2 separate regions of the Homo sapiens genome follow, and region 1 is linked to region 2. A link means that fine-mapping ties the variant in region 2 to the expression of a gene that starts in the linked region. Tissue or cell type: cerebellum. Region 2 holds a variant in brackets; the other region holds the start of a gene. All regions are shown on one strand. Distances are between the middles of the regions.

Evidence for each region. PIP is the estimated chance that this variant, and not a neighbour inherited with it, causes the effect.
Region 1: it holds the start of MLST8, and the variant in region 2 is fine-mapped to the expression of MLST8 in cerebellum (GTEx, PIP above 0.99).

The regions. Positions count from the first base shown.
Region 1 is chr16:2,202,321-2,210,320 of GRCh38, reverse strand. MLST8 (MTOR associated protein MLST8) reads right to left here and starts at 4,867. Exons shown (of 9, transcript NM_022372.6): 1 at 4,809-4,867; 2 at 4,107-4,290; 3 at 3,912-3,963; 4 at 3,662-3,824; 5 at 3,211-3,286; 6 at 2,976-3,128; 7 at 1,987-2,111; 8 at 1,708-1,871; 9 at 868-1,562. The coding sequence starts at 4,235. The coding sequence ends at 1,444. BRICD5 (BRICHOS domain containing 5) reads left to right here. Exons shown (of 6, transcript NM_182563.4): 3 at 40-195; 4 at 270-371; 5 at 615-768; 6 at 865-1,068. The coding sequence ends at 959. RefSeq lists silencers at 13-203, 4,310-4,959 and enhancers at 2,534-3,372, 3,373-4,212, 5,052-5,892.
Region 2 is chr16:2,153,960-2,161,959 of GRCh38, reverse strand. RAB26 (RAB26, member RAS oncogene family) reads right to left here. Exons shown (of 9, transcript NM_014353.5): 9 at 7,795-8,000. It overlaps TRAF7 (TNF receptor associated factor 7), which reads right to left and starts at 6,178. Exons shown (of 21, transcript NM_032271.3): 1 at 6,102-6,178. SNHG19 (small nucleolar RNA host gene 19) reads left to right here and starts at 6,602. Exons shown (of 2, transcript NR_132114.1): 1 at 6,602-6,817; 2 at 7,038-7,178. SNORD60 (small nucleolar RNA, C/D box 60) reads left to right here and starts at 6,855; the gene lies at 6,855-6,937. RefSeq lists enhancers at 1,492-2,073, 2,074-2,656, 3,823-4,404, 4,405-4,988, 4,989-5,570 and 3 more and a silencer at 6,044-6,133. The variant C/T (reference allele first, on the strand shown) is at 3,072.

The DNA.
Region 1 (8,000 bases), 48 kb before region 2:
TGCACAGCTGCCCGGCTGAACTCCAACTCCCACTGCCAGCCAAGGCTGCAGACGCTGCGAATGACCCTCCCGAGCCCCCACATGCCCCGGCCCAACCAAACCATCCTGGTGGACGTGGCCCGGAACGCGGCGACCATCACAGTGACCCCACCTCAGAGCAACCACAGCTGGGCGGTGCTGTTCGACGGGCAGAGCGTGAGTGGGCAGGGAGGGGTCACCCTGGCAGGTGTCGGTCTGGGGGGCCCCGCCTCACCCCCCTGCCTCCCCAGGGCTGCATCTGTTACCGCCCTGAGGAGCACCAGGTCTGCTTCCTCCGCCTGATGGAGGACAGTGATCGGGAGACCCTGCGGCTGCTGGTGGATACCTCCAAGGTGAGCCGTCCTGCTGGGCGCAGGCCCGGGCCAGGGGCTAGACAAAGGGTCCTGTGTGCAGCCCAGTACGGGACAGGCTGGAGCTGTGGTTTCAGGGAACAGGAAGCTCTCTCCGCCCTAAGCCCAGGCTGCTGACAAGAGCTGAGGGTGGGGACATCACTGGGGGTTGGAGGGTACCCGGCCCTGCCAAGCCAGGAGCAGGGAGCAGCCCTGTCCCACCGCCCACCAGAGCCTTCTCAACAGGTCCAAGAGGCTTGGGTCCCCAGCCAGGACACCCACCACACCCAGGAGCTGCTGGCAGTGCAGGGGAGCCTCGAAGTGGACCCCGCCCAGGCGGGGGCTTTGGTGCAGCGCCTGTGCATGAGGACCCCCATCTACTGGGCCCGGCGAGCAGAGGGTGAGTCAGGACCGCTGTGGGGGAAGGCCAGGCCCTCGGGATGGTTTGAGGAGCTGGGGGCGGAGCCCTTGGAGATTCACGGCACCCTCGCCACAGGGCCCCGGAGACAGCGGCTGATTTATCTCTGCATCGACATCTGCTTCCCGAGCAACATCTGCGTGTCGGTCTGCTTTTATTACCTCCCAGACTGAGCCCCCGACCTGGCCCAGCCTGGCCCGTCCCCAATCCAGTGGGCTGGCCAGGCCACCTGCACCAGGGAGGACAGCTGCTGGCAGGGACTAATAAACCCTTCCACCTGGCCATGGTGGTGGTGTTCTCTATGGACCGAGGCCCTGAAACGCGGGCAGGGAGGGGCAGAGAACACACTAGCTTGGGGGTGGGCACCAGCCTCAGACCCCTCAGCAGCTTTGGGCCCTCGGCCGACTTTCCCAGGCAGTGCAGGCTAGCCCAGTCCAGGAGTGTGCAGCCTGGCTTGGGTCGAGCTCTGTCACATCTGGATAAGCAACTGGGGGCTGAGAGTCCCAGGGCAGCCTGGCCCAGCAGGTCAAGGCGCCACAGGGGGCCATCAGGTCCAGCTGGCGCAGGCCGGCAGGGGAGGGTCTGCTCTGACCTGGGTGCTGCATGGGTCCCTCCAGCTGCCACCACCTGCACCAGGCAGTCCCGAGGGGTCACAGGCTAGCCCAGCACACTGTCATTGAAGGCCAGGCAGACAACAGCCTTCTGGTGGCCGCCATACTCTCTCTTGATCTCTCCAGTCTCCACACACCAGAGCCGGGCCAGGTTGTCCGAGGAAGCTGGAGGGGGAGATTGTGCAGGGCTAAGAGCGCAGGTGCAGGCCAAGCAGGCGGCCCCAGCAGAGGGGAAGCTGCAGCCGAGGTGGGCTGGCTCTGGAGGCCAGCGCCGGGGGCCAGGGATGGGGGAGGCCAGGGCGGGGCTCACCAGTGACGATGTACTGGGAGTCCCCCGAGAAGGCGCAGCCCCACATCCAGCCGCGGGAGGACTCCCCGGGGTTGCCGCTCTTGATGCTCAGCTCCGTCATCAGGGAGAAGTTGGACGTCCTCCAGATCTTGCACGTCTGATCAGCCGAGCAGGTGGCGAGGAGCCTAGTGGGTGGGCATGGGGCGTGTCCAGCAGCAGCCACTCCATCCAGCAGCCCCTCCCCTCTCCAGCCCCCAGCCCAGGCAGGTCCCCTCCCGGGCCAGCAGGCCCTGCACGCACGTGGAGTCGGGGCTGAAGCGACACTGCAGGGCGTAGCGCGTGTGGGCAGGGATCTTAGTCTTGGGGATGAGCTGGGTCACCTCGTCACCAATGCCCCCCGTCAGATTCCAGACATAGCAGTTTCCCTAGAGGTCAGGAGGACCGTCACGGAGGGCCCAAGGCCTCAGGTCTGAGACACAGGGAAGGATGCCCTGGGGGCCAACACTGGGGGCCAACTGTGCATGGGGACCCCGGGTGAGGGGCAGGCAGGCCCCTCTGGTCCTGCCTGCAGAAGGCACCTGGGAAGCCTGGCCCCAAGCAAGGGCCACACCTGGCAAGCCAAGAACAGGAGGCCACGCCTGGCCAAGGACTCAAATTCTCCTTCCTGGAGGATGCCGATGGCCAACGGAAGTAGACAGGAGAAGGGCACCAGCTAGAGAGACAGCATGACAAAGGCCAGCAGAAGGGAAATCCGGGGGCAAGAGGTACAAGTGATGCACTGGGATTAAATGAAGTTAATGAAAAAAAATGAGGCTGGAGAGAAGAGCAGGGGCCACGCCACAGCAGCCTACGGGCGAGGCCAGCAGCCCCGGGTCTCCTCAGGGGAATGACGCCACCTGGCTGATACTGACCAGGCACCACTAGAAGCATCCAAGAGAGAACGTGTCAGGGGCCAGGGGAGGTCAGGGAGGGGGAAAGGAAGCCTCAGAGAGTGTGTCAGCCGTCACCAGAAACAAGGGTGACTGGGACCAGGAGGCAACAGAGTGAAAAGAGGGAAGTGGATCGACTTGGGAGAGACTCCAGAAAGCGGAGTGACCGACCTGCAGACAGGACTAAGCCATCGGGAGCGACACTAAGGCTTCTGGCTTTGCTGGCAAGGTGGGTGTTAGTGCCCGGGATGGGGAAAGCAGGAGGGGGCCGCTAAGGGACATCCAGGAATAAGCCCACCTGCAGAGGCTGAGGGCTGAGTGCCAAGCTGCCCGCACCCAGCACCTGCCACCAGGACTCACGGTGCTATTGACAGCTGCCATGTAGCTGGCGTCGGGATCGATGTGGGCGGACGTGATGGAGACCTCGGGCTCAGGGATCAGCTGCTCGTTGTGGTCTGTTTTCAAGTCCCAGATGTGGATAGCCCCGCTCTGGTCACCCACGATGAGCTCTGCCTGGGGTGCAGGGGTGGTGAGGCAGGGCCCAAGCCCAGCCCTCCAAAGTCCCAGGGTGCCTGGCCCCATGAGCACCCCTCACCTGGTTGGGGTGCAGGCACACGCAGTTAATGGGTGCGTTCACCTGGAAGATCCGCTGGCACTGCAGGTTCCGGGACCTGCGGGCCGGGCCGGGGCACATGCTGTCCATCTGGGCTTGTTGGTGCCCTACCCAGATGGCCTCGGCCTGGCCATTCCTCCCCTCCCTCTGCTGAAGGACCTGCCTCTTGGGAAATACTTGGGACGCAGGGCCCTCTGCTCCAGCAGGGAGCCTAAGCCAGTGGCTGGTGGAAGGGGAATAACAAGCTGGCTCCGGGCTCAAGGCAGGACTCGCGCTCTGATGCAATTCACTCTCCTCCTGTCCTCACTTCTCTCAGTAAGTCGCCCACAGGAAGCTCCCTGTCTCAGCCTCTGCTTGAAGAGAACCCAACCTAAAACGGTCTCCCAGAGCAGCCCACCCCAGCCCCGGGCAGCACGCCCCCTCCCCACCGCACCTGAGGTCCCAGATCCTGGCTGTGCAGTCCTCGCCGCCCGTGTACATCCAGCGGCCGTCTTCGTGGAAGCCCACAGACGCGATGTTCTTGTTGACGCCGTCGTAGCTGATGATGGGGTTAGGGTTATTGGAGTTGAGATCATACATGCGGATGTGCTGGTAACCTAGGGACACAGGCTGAACTGAAGCTTGGCTGTGCTGAGGTCGACCCACCAGAGCTCAGGAGTTTAGAGATCAAGGATCACAGATACCTGCAGCAGCAATCATGCTGCGGTCCGGTGTGACCTCCAAGGCATTCACCTGCTGGGACTGTTAAGGAGGATGACGGGAAGGTAGCCCTGAGGCCAGGGCCCCCCAGGCCTCCACCATCTGGCCTTCACACAGGCTGTGGTCCCCACACGAGGCATCCCCCCAGCGCCGCCCTGCCCGCCCCGGGTGGAGGATACGGAGTCCTGGTGCTGCACCGTCCGGGTGCAGATGCCGCTGTGGGCCTGCCAGAAGCGCACGGTGTGGTCGTAGCCTGCAGTGGCCAGGATGACCGGGTCACTGCCCACCGTGCCTGGGGAGGTGTTCATGGTGTGGCCTGCACGGGCCCTAGAGCTGAACGGCAGGGGTCAAAGGTCAGAGCATCTGCAGAGAAGGATGTGAAGTACTTAGAAGACACTCTCTGTGCTAAGTAGATTATAGACCCACAAGGCGCTGCCGAATGGCGCTTATCATTCCCATTTTAGAGTTGGGACAAGAAGCGCAGGTAGGTTCAGGGACACGCGTCACACGCGTGATACCTGGCTCCGGGGCTCCAGGGCGCGTGCTCCATCCCCGCCCCACGCACACGGCGGGGGCGCCGTCCCCCCCCCACCTCCGCAGCCGGCAGGGGGGAGTCACGCGCGGGCGCCACTCTGCCGCAGGGGCGGGCTGCGCGTGCGCAAGGCGGCGGATGGGCCGGGGAAAGCCGAGCGCTGCGGCTGCGCATGCGTAGCAGGCCAGCGGCAGGCCCTGATGGGAAAGGGCGCAGTCTGGCTGGACCCCCGAGCTCCCCTTTCCTCCGGTGACCGCCCTTGCTCCGTCCTGCTGGCCGGCTTCCCCTGGCCGTGCTCTCCCAGCCACCCAGCAGCCGGTTCCCGGCCCCTGGCTCGCGGCCTCCGTACCTTACGGGCGGCTCCGCACTCCGCCGTGTCCAGGACGGCGAGGGGAGCCGGAGCGAGTCGATCGAGGCCGAGCGTAGAGTTATCGATGGCTCCCTAGGGCGAGACCATGGCGCGGGCGGGGGTGGGTGGGACGAGACCAAAGTTCTGGGGCGGGGGGTTCCCGCCGGGAGGAACTCGGAGCGGTCCCCGTGCGCGGCCGCGGGCCCGGCGCGAGGTGGAAGGAAGCTGCGGCTTTCTCTCCGGCCTCCTGCCCACTGGCACCTGCCCTTCTGACACGGCTGTCCGTTTCCCGGGCTGTCGGGTCGCGCTGTTCCGGTGCCCTCCCTGACCCACTACTGCGCCACGCTGGGCTAGGATTGGCTGAAAATTACAGGACTTGAATTCAGACAAGTAACGAATAATTTTTTTTTTAGTGTAAGTATATCCAGGACATTGCATGGGAAATACTTATGCTAAAAAAATTTTATTGGGTATCCTGTAGTTTTACTTGCTAGATCTGGCACCCCAGCCCCAGCCTGACCCTCAGGACATCCCACTGAGCCCAGGGTCCCCCTCAAAACCACAGGCCCTCATTCCAGCTCTGTGAGCTCCACGCCGGTGCCCTCACCCTTGAGACAGGCTGTCGCATGGTTTTTTCCTGCTGCTCTTACAGACCTGGCTGCACCCCTTCCTCTGGCCGCAGAGGGGGTGCATCTTGTCCCTTGACCAGGCCATAGTTCCCATGGAGCCTTCCTTCCTATACCTTCACCTCCTCTCCTTCCTGCCGGTTAGCCTTTAAAAAAACACCATAAAACAATCCCAAATTATCTTCTTCAAAGAGCGGTCCTCACCATTTTTCTAGTTCCACGTCCTCACCTCCCACTCATTCCGCAACCCCAGTCATCTGCCTTTTACCCCCAGCTCTCTAGCTCTCCAGTGGAAATTCCTCAAGGTCACTGACAATCTCACTTTGCTAAATCCAGTGGATACTTTTCCTTCTTCCCACCTTTTTTTTTTTTTTCTCTCGAGACAGAGTCTCGCTTTCTCGCCCAGGCTGGAGTGCAGTGGTGCAATCTCGACTCACTGCAAAACCTCTGCCTCCCAGGTTCAAGCGATTTTCCTGCCTCAGCCTCCCGAGTAGCTGGGATTACAGGCACGCACCACCACACCTGGCTGATTTTTGTATTTTTAGTGGAGACGGGATTTCACCATGTTCGCAAGGCTGGTCTCAAACTCCTGACCTCAAGTGATCCGCCTACCTCAGCCTCCCAAAGTGCTGGGATTACAGGCGTGAGCCACTGCGCCCGGCCTCTTCCCACTTCTTCTTTCTTTTTTTTTTTTTTTTTATTGAGACGGAGTCTCGCTTTGTTGCCAGGCTGGAGTGCAGTGGTGCGATCTCGGCTCTCCACAATCTCCACCTCCCGGGTTCAAGCTATTCTCCTGCCTCAGCCTCCCGGGTAGCTGGGATTACAGGTGCATGCCACCACACCCAGTTAATTTTTCTATTTTTAGTAGAGACAGACTTTTCACCATGTTGGCCAGGATGGTGGATGGTCTTGATCTCGTGACCTCGTGATCCGCCCCCCTCAGCCTCCCAAAGTGCTGGGATTACAGGCGTGAGCCACTGCGCCCGGCCCCCTCCCACTTCTTGACGCATCTGAGCCATGGTTGACGGCACCATGCCTGAAAGGCTGCCTTCTCCTAGCTCCTGTCCCCGACATTTAGTCTCTTTCCCTGCCTGCCCGCAAGGACTCAGGCCCTTCAGCATTCACTCTGTGCACCCCACGAGATACCAGGGGGCTGATGACTGCTAGCTCTGGAGCTTCCAATGCTGTCCCTGTCCTGGGCCCCTTCCACCCTGTCTCCAGCTCTGATGGCCTCAGCTCCCTGTTAAGACACTGTCCCTTGAATGCCCCGCAGGGTCCACCATATTCCAGGGCCAAGACAACCCATCCCTGAGTAGCTCCCCTTCTGTGGGCAGTGCCCACCTTGTATTACAGCTGGGCAAGATCCGACACCTCCCCTCCCTCACCCTTCCCTTCCCTTCAGCCACCGATTTTACCTGTGATATACCTTCCTGTCCTTTCCACTGCCCTGGTTCTAGCTCACCACCCCCATCCCCCATAAAAGCCTCCTTCCTTGCCCCAGCCACTCTGGCCCCCTTCCAAACTGTCCACCACAGTGCAGAATGGCCTTTTATTTATTTATTTATTTATTTATTTATTTATTTATTTATTTTTGAGACGGATTTTCACTCTTGTTGCCCAGGCTGGAGTGCAATGGCGCGATCTCGACTCGCTGCAACCTCCACCTCCTGGGTTCCTCAGTCTCCTGAGTAGCTGGGATTACAGGCATGCACCACCATCCCAGCTAATTTTGTATTTTTAGTAGAGACAGGGTTTCTCCATGTTGGTCAGGCTGGTCTTGAATTCCTAACCTCAAGTGACCCACCCACCTCAGCTTCTCAAAGTGCTAGGTTTACAGGCGTGAGCCATCGCGCCCGGCCAGAGTGGCCTTTTAAAAACCTCAGTCTGAGCCCAGCACAGTGATTCATGCCTGTAATCCCAGCACTTTCGAAGGCTGAGGCAGGAGGATCACTCGAGCCCAGAAGTTCAAGACCATCCTGAACAATATAGTGATACCCCATCTCTACAAAAAATTTAAAAATTAGTCAGGAATGGTGGTGCGTGCCTGTGGTCCCAGCTTTGGGAGGCTGAGGTGGAAGGATCACTCGAGGCCAGGAACTCGAGGCTGCAGTAAGCTGTGGTTGAGCCACTGCACTCCAGGCTGGGTGACAGAGCAAGACCTTTTCTCAAAACAAAACAAAAACCCCCAGCAAAACCTAGGAATGACTTGATCACCCCATTAGAAGCCCTCAGGGGTCCCTGTCCCTCTCCAGACTCCTGGGCCTGGCCCTGGCCCTGGCCCATCCTGTGGCTTCCATCTCCTCTCCATGTGATACCATTAGGCTTTGTGTCCCCACCCAAATCTCGTCTTGAATTGTAATCCCCATAATCCCCATGTGTCAAAGGAGAGACCAGGTGGAGGTAACTGAATCATGAGGGCAGGTTCCCCCATGCCGTTCTCATGATAGTGAGTGAGATCTCAAGAGATCTGATGGTTTTATAAGGGGTTCCTCCTCCTTTGCTCCACTTCTCCTTCCTGCCGCCTTGCGGAGAAGGTGCCTTGCTTCCGCTTCGCCTTCCGCCATGA
Region 2 (8,000 bases):
CAGGGGCTCCTGAGTGTGGGCAGTGCCACACACCTGCAGCCAGGCTCAGAGGAGTCAGCCCTGGGACAGAGGTGTGGTCGTGGTGTGTCTACAAGGCTGCTCTGCCCTGGCACATGTCTATCCCGTCTCCAGCAGCTCCCGGCAGGAAGGTCGGGGAGAGCTGGCCAGGGCTTGCCTTTTGCCATTGTGCTTGGGGTGAGGATGTCCCAGCTGGGGTAAGGCCCTGATAGCCTGAAGTGCAGGGCGCCATGACTCGGCACAGGAGGTTCAGCCCTTTTGGGAGCCCCAGGTTGGCTCCTGCCCTCTGGGAGCAGGGAGGGGATCACCGGGCAGCCACTAGGAGACACTGACCTGCATTTTACAAACCCATCAGCTCCCTGTACTGCAAGCTTCCGGGGCCCCAGGGCCAGCTGCAAGCCCTGCCAGTGATGCCTGCCCGGGGGCCCAGGTGGCCAGGACCCCAGCAGGCACTCCCCTGGGATGGGTCGGGCTGGCCTCAGTGCCTGTTGCTCACAGTCTGGGAGAGCAACTGTCTGGCTTCCCCCTCACTCTGAAGTGAGGTGAACAGAAAGGCACGCAGGGCAATGTGCAAATCAGCCAGAAAGTCCCAGCTGGCCAACAGCAGCCGGGCCACGGGGACAACACCACAGGATCTGTGGGGTGTGCGCAAGACCCCATCGAGCGCCAGCTGAGGGGGACGGAAGGAGGGAGGGGACGGAGGGAGGGAGGGGGCAGAGGGAAGCAGGGGGACGGAGGGAGGGAGGGGGACGGAAGGAGGGAGGGAAGGAGGGGGATACTCTGCACAGGAGGCTGCTTCCCAGTTCACTCGGGTTCAGTGTTCAGCCCCAGCCAGGGACATGGAGGCGGGCGGGACCCTGGGGCTGGAGGCCAGGGAACGTTTGTGTCCCGCCCTAAGGCAGGATCCATCCCCGCACCTCGGAATTGAGCAAGATGCCCGAGGCCTCCCCTCAGCCCAGTCCCCAGGGACTGGGTTTTGCAGTAAGTTTCCCCAGTAGGGAGAGGACCCCTTGGGCCACAACTGGAAAGCACAATAGCTCAGCATCCCCTGATGGCTGGGAGGCTTTTCTGGGGGCATGCCCTGGCCCCCCAGAGGGAGAGTGCCTCTTTCCCCACCCCACAGTCATCGAGGCTGGGGGGTGGCCGGGCAGGAAGTTGTCAACCGGAGTGAGAATTCCCCTTCAATTCTCTGGCCTCTCTGCCCTCCAGTTCCCAGTGCTGGGGAAGTGGGGGTGTGTTCCATAGAATGAGAGACTCTTCCCAAACCGGGAAAAGCCATGGGGGCAGCTAGTGGCTGAGAAAGGGCTTTCCCCATCAGCCCCCCTACCCCTCCCTTCCATGTCCCCACCACGCCTGCCCGAGCACCGCCCGCCCACCCACACCGCCCGCCCATCCACACCGCCTGCCCGAGCACCTCCCGCCCACCCACACCGCCCGCCGGTCCACACCTCCCGCCCGTCCACACCGCCCGCCCATCCACACCGCCTGCCTGTCCACACCACCTGCCCGTCCACACCACCTGCCCGTCCACACTGCCCATGCTGGATGCTCCAGGAGTATTCGATCTTTGAAAGAGAAAAGTCATTGAGGAAGCGCAGCATCCACCCTGGGGAAGGCCAGTGCTGACCTTCAGGGGCGAGGTGCGTGGGTCAGCACCGTGCAGAGGGGAAGGGCAGGATTGGCCCCCCACCGTCCCCTCCAGCTGGGGCCAACGCAGGGCAGCCCCTCCCTGACCTCGCCTGAATCTGGGATTCAGGCCCAGGGTCTTTGTCCACCCCACATTCACGTAGGAGGGATTCCGGGGCCCTGGGGGCACCCACTGTGCAATAAGGAAGTGGAAGTCTTCCTCAGCGCCTCGCTGCCTCCACCCCAGCCCCTCTTCGGCAAATCCCTCAGGAGCCCCTCCCTAGCTCCCACAAGCTGGGCTTAGAGGGCTCTGCTGGGGCATCGCCCTGGGGGCATGTGGGATGCGGACACCCACCCCTTTCCCTGGAGACACACCTGGAGGGGGTCTGGGTCAGGGGTCCCCGCCCACTTGGCAGCAGCCTGGGGGGCCCTGCTGAGTGGGGGAGATGGGGGCTTCCAGATGCAGCTCCCTGCTCGGGCCAGGCCCGGCCTTAAAGCAGCTCCTCCAGCAACCCGGAGCAGGTGGGGTGTGGGGGTCCCCTGAACATGTGTGGGGCGCAAGCCATGGGTGGGTGTGCCTGTGAGGCCTGCAACTGCCCTGGGAGGAGCCTGGGACGGCTCCAGAAGCCTCCGCCCCGCCTGCCACAGGGCTGTGTGTGGCCGGCTGGCTGGACTGCGGCCAGAGCTCCGAGCGTGGCCCCTGGCATCACAGAGCCTGCCCAGGGCACCCACAGACTGCCCGCCCCAGCCCAGCCCCTGCCTCAGCCCCCTGGCCCAAGCCCAGGCCGCTAAATTCTATAGAAACAGGCCTGGTTGCCATAGCAAAGCCACACGCACTTCCGCCGCTGTTCCCTGACGTCCCTTAGAACGTTTTTTCCATCCCAAATAGGCAGGGTGTGACGTCGAAGGCTCCTGGGGTGCCCCGGCCTCTGCCAGCCTTGGTCCTTAGGATCCCCTCAGAACCCCAGCAGGCCCTGGTCTGAGGCCGGCTTGGCCCCGCTTCCCTCCTAGCACGGCGAACCCCCTTGCCTGTCCCTGCCCCCAACACCCACAGCCCCAGCTCTGCAGAGGCCTCTGAACTCCTCCCCCAGCTCTGCTCCTACTGCATCCACTCAGCCTCCAGGCCTGTCTTGCCCTGGCCAAGCCTCTCCAGCGTCCGTATCTCCCTCTGCTCCAGGGAGGGGGTCCCCACAGCTCGGCCAAGGCTTTACCCCAACTTCACAGTAAGGATGCCTTTTGCTGCCCCTCCGACCCCTTGGGGGCTGGCAACATCTCTCAGTCCTTTTTTCCCCTGTATCTCATGGCTGTCTATTGTGTGGGGACCTGGCCCAGTCGAGGGGAAGTCCAGAGGGCTTCCTGGAGGATGAGGCTGCTGGGATCCAGAGTGGGGAGAGTATCCTGGGGCACAGGAAGAGACCCCAGCTTCA[C/T]AGCTCTGGGCTGGGGAGTGCGTTCCTGGCTCTCACCCAAGTCAAGTGGGCCTCAGACTCTCAGAAACAGGTCGTGAGCTTTGCCCAAGAGCCAAGGGTGGCAGTGTCCCCCCCCCCCCCGCCGAGCCCACGCTTCCCAGTCCCACGCTGTGTTCTCATTTGCTTCCTGTGTGGCTCGGTCTCCCGGGCTCCCTCCTTCCTTCTGCCCTGCAGCAGCAGGGAGCTGACATAAACACTGGCCATACATGGGCCCGAAGAGGCAACAGGAATGTGAGGGCAGAGACCACTGACCCCCTCAGTCACCCAGCGCCCTCATGCCAGCGTGCCACCGCACTGCCACCTCCTTTCCCACACCGTCCCACGGCCCTCAGTCCTGGCCCTCTGCGTCGCTGCCCCCTACTTCCCACCTGGGTGCTTCTGGGGTTGGGTCACCTCCACCCCGAGTTTCCAGGCAGCCGGCTTCCTCCAGCCGGGTGAGGGTGTCCGGGTCTACACGTGACCAGCCCCAGCCTCCAGTGCCCGCTTTCCCCTTTCACCTGCCCCACCTGGCTGCACCCTCCTCCTCCAGGGAGCAAGGCTGGGGACAGCAGCGGATCTGTCAAAGACTAAGGGGTTGGTGGGTCCCTCTCCACAGGTTCCCCCCGCATGATCCACACAGAGGGCCTGGTGAAGTCCTCGGTGCCCACCCACTGAGAAGGCCGGACTGAGACACACGCAGCCAACAGCTCTCGGCCCTCCCCACATGCCCTCCCTGACCCCGCAGGGTGTCCATCCAGGAGATGCTGTGACACCGTGGTCAAGGCCACAGGCACTGGGCTCAGACAGAGCTGGGTTCAAAGTCCACTTCTACCACTTCACAGCTGTGTACCTGCCCTCCTGGCCTCGGGCTTCTCGAAAAACGGAATAGAGCCAGAACCCTGTCTGGAAGGAGCCGAGAGAAGATGGATCCGTCAAGAGTGAAGGCACCCCAGACAGCAGCTCCTCTGCTGAGTGGACCATGGAGGCTGAGGAAGGCGGAGAGGCCGGCCCAGGGACACAGCCAGCAGGCTGTGCCGCTGTGACCAGAGTCACATTCCTTCTGCTTCGTCCACGGCTGCCACACATCCAGGAGCCCCGGCAGCGCCTGAGCCAGTCCCATGCCAAGCCGGGGAGTGGCTGCATCCCAGAGCCAGGCTGCCCAGGCCTCCTGGCCAGGAGGCTCTTCAACTGCATCTTCCTCCTTTCCCCAAACTGCTCATTCCTTGTCCAACCAGCTGGCCGAGAGTCACACCAACCACGGGGTGCCAGGCCCCATGCGGGAGGGTGGGGATGTGTGACGGCTGAACACGAATCTGACCCGGGAGGAGCTAGGAGCCTTGTGGGGGACACAGGCAGACAGAGGGGCAGGAGCCCCACCAATCGCCACTCAATCTGCCAAAGGCACTTTTCGGTGGGTGCCAAAGACCCTGAACTTTTCCATTCACTTCCAGAAATATCGTAACACTTGGCCCCAGTGGGCCACGGTGGAAGTCACTTCACCAGAGACCCTCAGGTTGGGGCGTCAGGTTGGGGTGCTGACTCCCAGCCCCTCCCCTCCTTAGGCCAGGCTGCCCATACCACTGCTCCCCCTCAGGACACGGGGCCCGAGGCTTCCACAGAGAACTATGAATGCCCAGAACAGTGAAGTCAGGATATTCGCAACAGAGAGGCACAGGGAAGGGGTCTAGGAAGGGAGAGGCCCAAAGAGAAGGAATGAGGAAGAGGGAGGCTCCTCACTTGGCGAGGGCTAGGGGGCCTGTGTGTGCCCAGGAAGGGGTCTGAGGGGTAGTGAGAAAGGTGGGCAGACAGGCTGGGCGGCATGAAATTCCTGAGCAAGCCAGCAGCCCCTCACCCCCAAGAGCAGGGTGGGCTCCAGCAGGCCCCTGCCCCTGGACTCCAGACTCAACCCCAGCTGACCACTCTGGCCTGGCTCAAGACAACCGTATCTTGACAGCAGGACCCCAGTGGGGACTAGGAGACGATGGCCTAGCCTCCCTCTCTCCTGCTTCCCCAGTGAACTCTGAAGTCTGTGGTCCACACACAGTTAGAAAGCTCTTTACTGGACCTAGATCGGACCGCCTCTCCAGCGCTTCCTCAACCCCAAGTCATTTGCCAGCATAATAACCCCCCCGCCCCACCCCACCATGCACCCTGTGAGCCTGGTCCGGCCTCATCGACTTCACCTCTCCACTTGCCAGTGCTTGCTGGGGTGCGTCAGGCCCCTTCTCACCCCAGGCCTATGTACATCTGGCTCTTTCTACTTGGAATGCTCCTCCTGCATGTCCTGGGACTGGCTGCTTCTCCAACAGGCCTTTGGCTAACGGTAGCGCCGCCCCTACCCCCGGCCAGTACTCACTTTTTCAGCACCCTCTTTCTTTCTTTCACAGCACATACCGCTGCTCCCCATGATTTTAACTACCTATTGTCAATCCCACCACCCTGTCTGTCTAGATGGGGGATGGGGGGAGTTGTTCCGCAGGAGGCATTTGCCAATGCATGGAGACATTTGTTATCGCAATTGAGGAAGGGGTGGTGTTTACTGGTATCTAGCGGCCAGGAGCCAGGCAAGCTGTTCCACATCCTACAATGTACAGGGCAGCTCCTCGCAGCAAAAAGCGACCCGGGCCGCGTGGTCGATGGTGCGGAGGTTGGGGAACCCTGCAGCAGACGCCGAGCACAGGAGAACTGGGACCGTGTTCTCCGCGGTCTCCCGGCGCCCAGAACAGTGCCTGGCACCCGGGAGTCTCGGGGAATGCAGGAAGAAGGAATGAGTAAAGAACTGCGCGAGAACAGGACGGAGCGAGGGACGGACTACTGACTGGCGGACGGACAGCGACGCGGACCCCGACCCTGACCCCGACCCCGACCGTCTCAGCCCCGCCCCCCCCTCCCCGCCCCGGCCCGACCCCTCGCCTCGCCTCGCCTCGCCTCGATCTCCACGCGCCCGATCCCGCCCCACCGCGCGGTCCCGAGGCGCGAGCCCCGGGTCGGGCGCGCCGCGGGGACACTCACCCGCCCGCGGCCGCCCGGGAGCGGCAGCGCCGCCAGCCCGCTTCATGATGCCCCCTCGGCCGCCGGCCGGGAAAGGGACTAGACGCGCGAGCCGGAAGCGCCAGGCCGCTGCGCCCGCCGGGACGTGTAGTTCCCCGCCTCTCCGGGCCCGGACGGCTGCCTCACGCGCCGCACTTCCGAAACTACGACTTCCGGCGGCCTCGTCGTCGCGGGGCGGGAATGGCAGCTTCAGAATCACTCTATGTTGCAGATCGAAGTCTGATTGGCTTTGTTCATCCGTCACTCACCGTTAGGCTTCACGGACTCTGCATAAGGGAGGAGCTTCGGGTCTGGGTCTGAGAGACCGTCTCCAAAAGAAATGCCACGGTACGATTGGTGGAAACAACGCGGCAGGGAGCGGAGCGTACCAGCGGCGGGGGAAGGCGGGCACTTCCGCCAGGATAGCCCAATGACAGAGGTGGGACAGTTTCTATAAAAGCTTGAGCCTCGCCCGCCCCTGTCTTTTCGGGGTCGAGTCCGAGGGGGAAGAGGTTTGTTAATACGTTCGCCATGTGCTACGATCTTGGGACGAACTGAGCCACGAGCGTGGCTTTGAGGGCCGTCCGAACGCTGCAGGCCGGCCAGGTCCCTGGGCGTCCAGGCCTGGCCTACGCACCACTTTGTCCCTTAGCGTTTAAAGGTTTCTTCCCGAATCTCAGGCCCTCAGCTACCTGCAGGTAAGACTGGGCCGGGCTTGGGTTCCCTTATTCTCCCAGTCTGTGATGAATTGCTTTGACTTCTGACACCTCGTATGAAAACTGCACGTGCAGTCTGATTATTTAGCAAGACTGAGGCTTGAGGGTGCGCACTCCTGACGGGGAGCTGAGAGTGGAAACAGGTGTTGCCCGAAACGAAGGAGTGGGGACTTAATGTCTGTATTTTGGCGCTGACTTTCAGGTTTCGTCGCGAGCCGGCTGCAAGTTTTGAACCTAAGTAAACCTCAATCCGGAGGGCCTAGCGGTAAGGTGGGCGCTGTGTCTATTGAAGTGCTTAGCAATAAAGAAAGGTAGTGAGTTGATTCGGTTTTCTCTCAAGTGTCTTTATTTTCCTATTCTGGCACCCCAGAGGTCTGGCTGATCCACAGGCAATCTTGGAAAAGGGTACAGACATGAAAACGGAAGCTCGTTACCAGTGACTTTTCATCTCTTGGGATTGCCTTCTCCATTTCTGCCCGTGATTTTTTTTTTTTTTTTTTGAGACGGAGTTTTGCTCGTTTCCCAGGCGGGAGTGCGATGGCACAACCTCCACCTCAAGCGATTTTCCTGCCTGAGCCTCCCAAATGGCTGGAATTACAGGCGCCCACCACCACGCCCGGCTAATTTTGTATTTTTAGTAGAGACGGGGTTTCTCCGTGTTAGGCTGGTCTCAAACTCCTGACCTCAGGTGATCTGCCCACCTCAGCCTCCCAAAGTGCTGGGATCACAGGTGTGAGCCACCACGCCCAGTCAAATACTGTTTTTCATGCCTTTTGCCCCAGGGTGAGTCCAAAAAGGCTTTTGAGATTTGTGGAGGGAAGTTGACACCACCTAGGGTTCCCATGTGCCTCCTTAGGGAGGCAGCCATGGGCCATGGAGGAATGGTAGCCACACACCTGCTGAGGGTTCTGGGCCTTGCTGAGTCTCTCAAACTCCAGCATCCTGCTCTAGAAGTGGATTTTTTTCAACAGATGAGACAGACGCTCCAGAAAACACAACTTTATTCACTAGGACTGAAAACAAAGGCTTGTGCAATCAAAAGGCCAAGTTGAGTGCAAGGTGGAGCGTGCTCGGAAATCACAGACCTCACCTGTGGCCAGGCCGGGCTGGCAGTTGTTGTTTCTGGTGTTTTCTGTGATTTCCCACATTTTATCACAAGGCCACA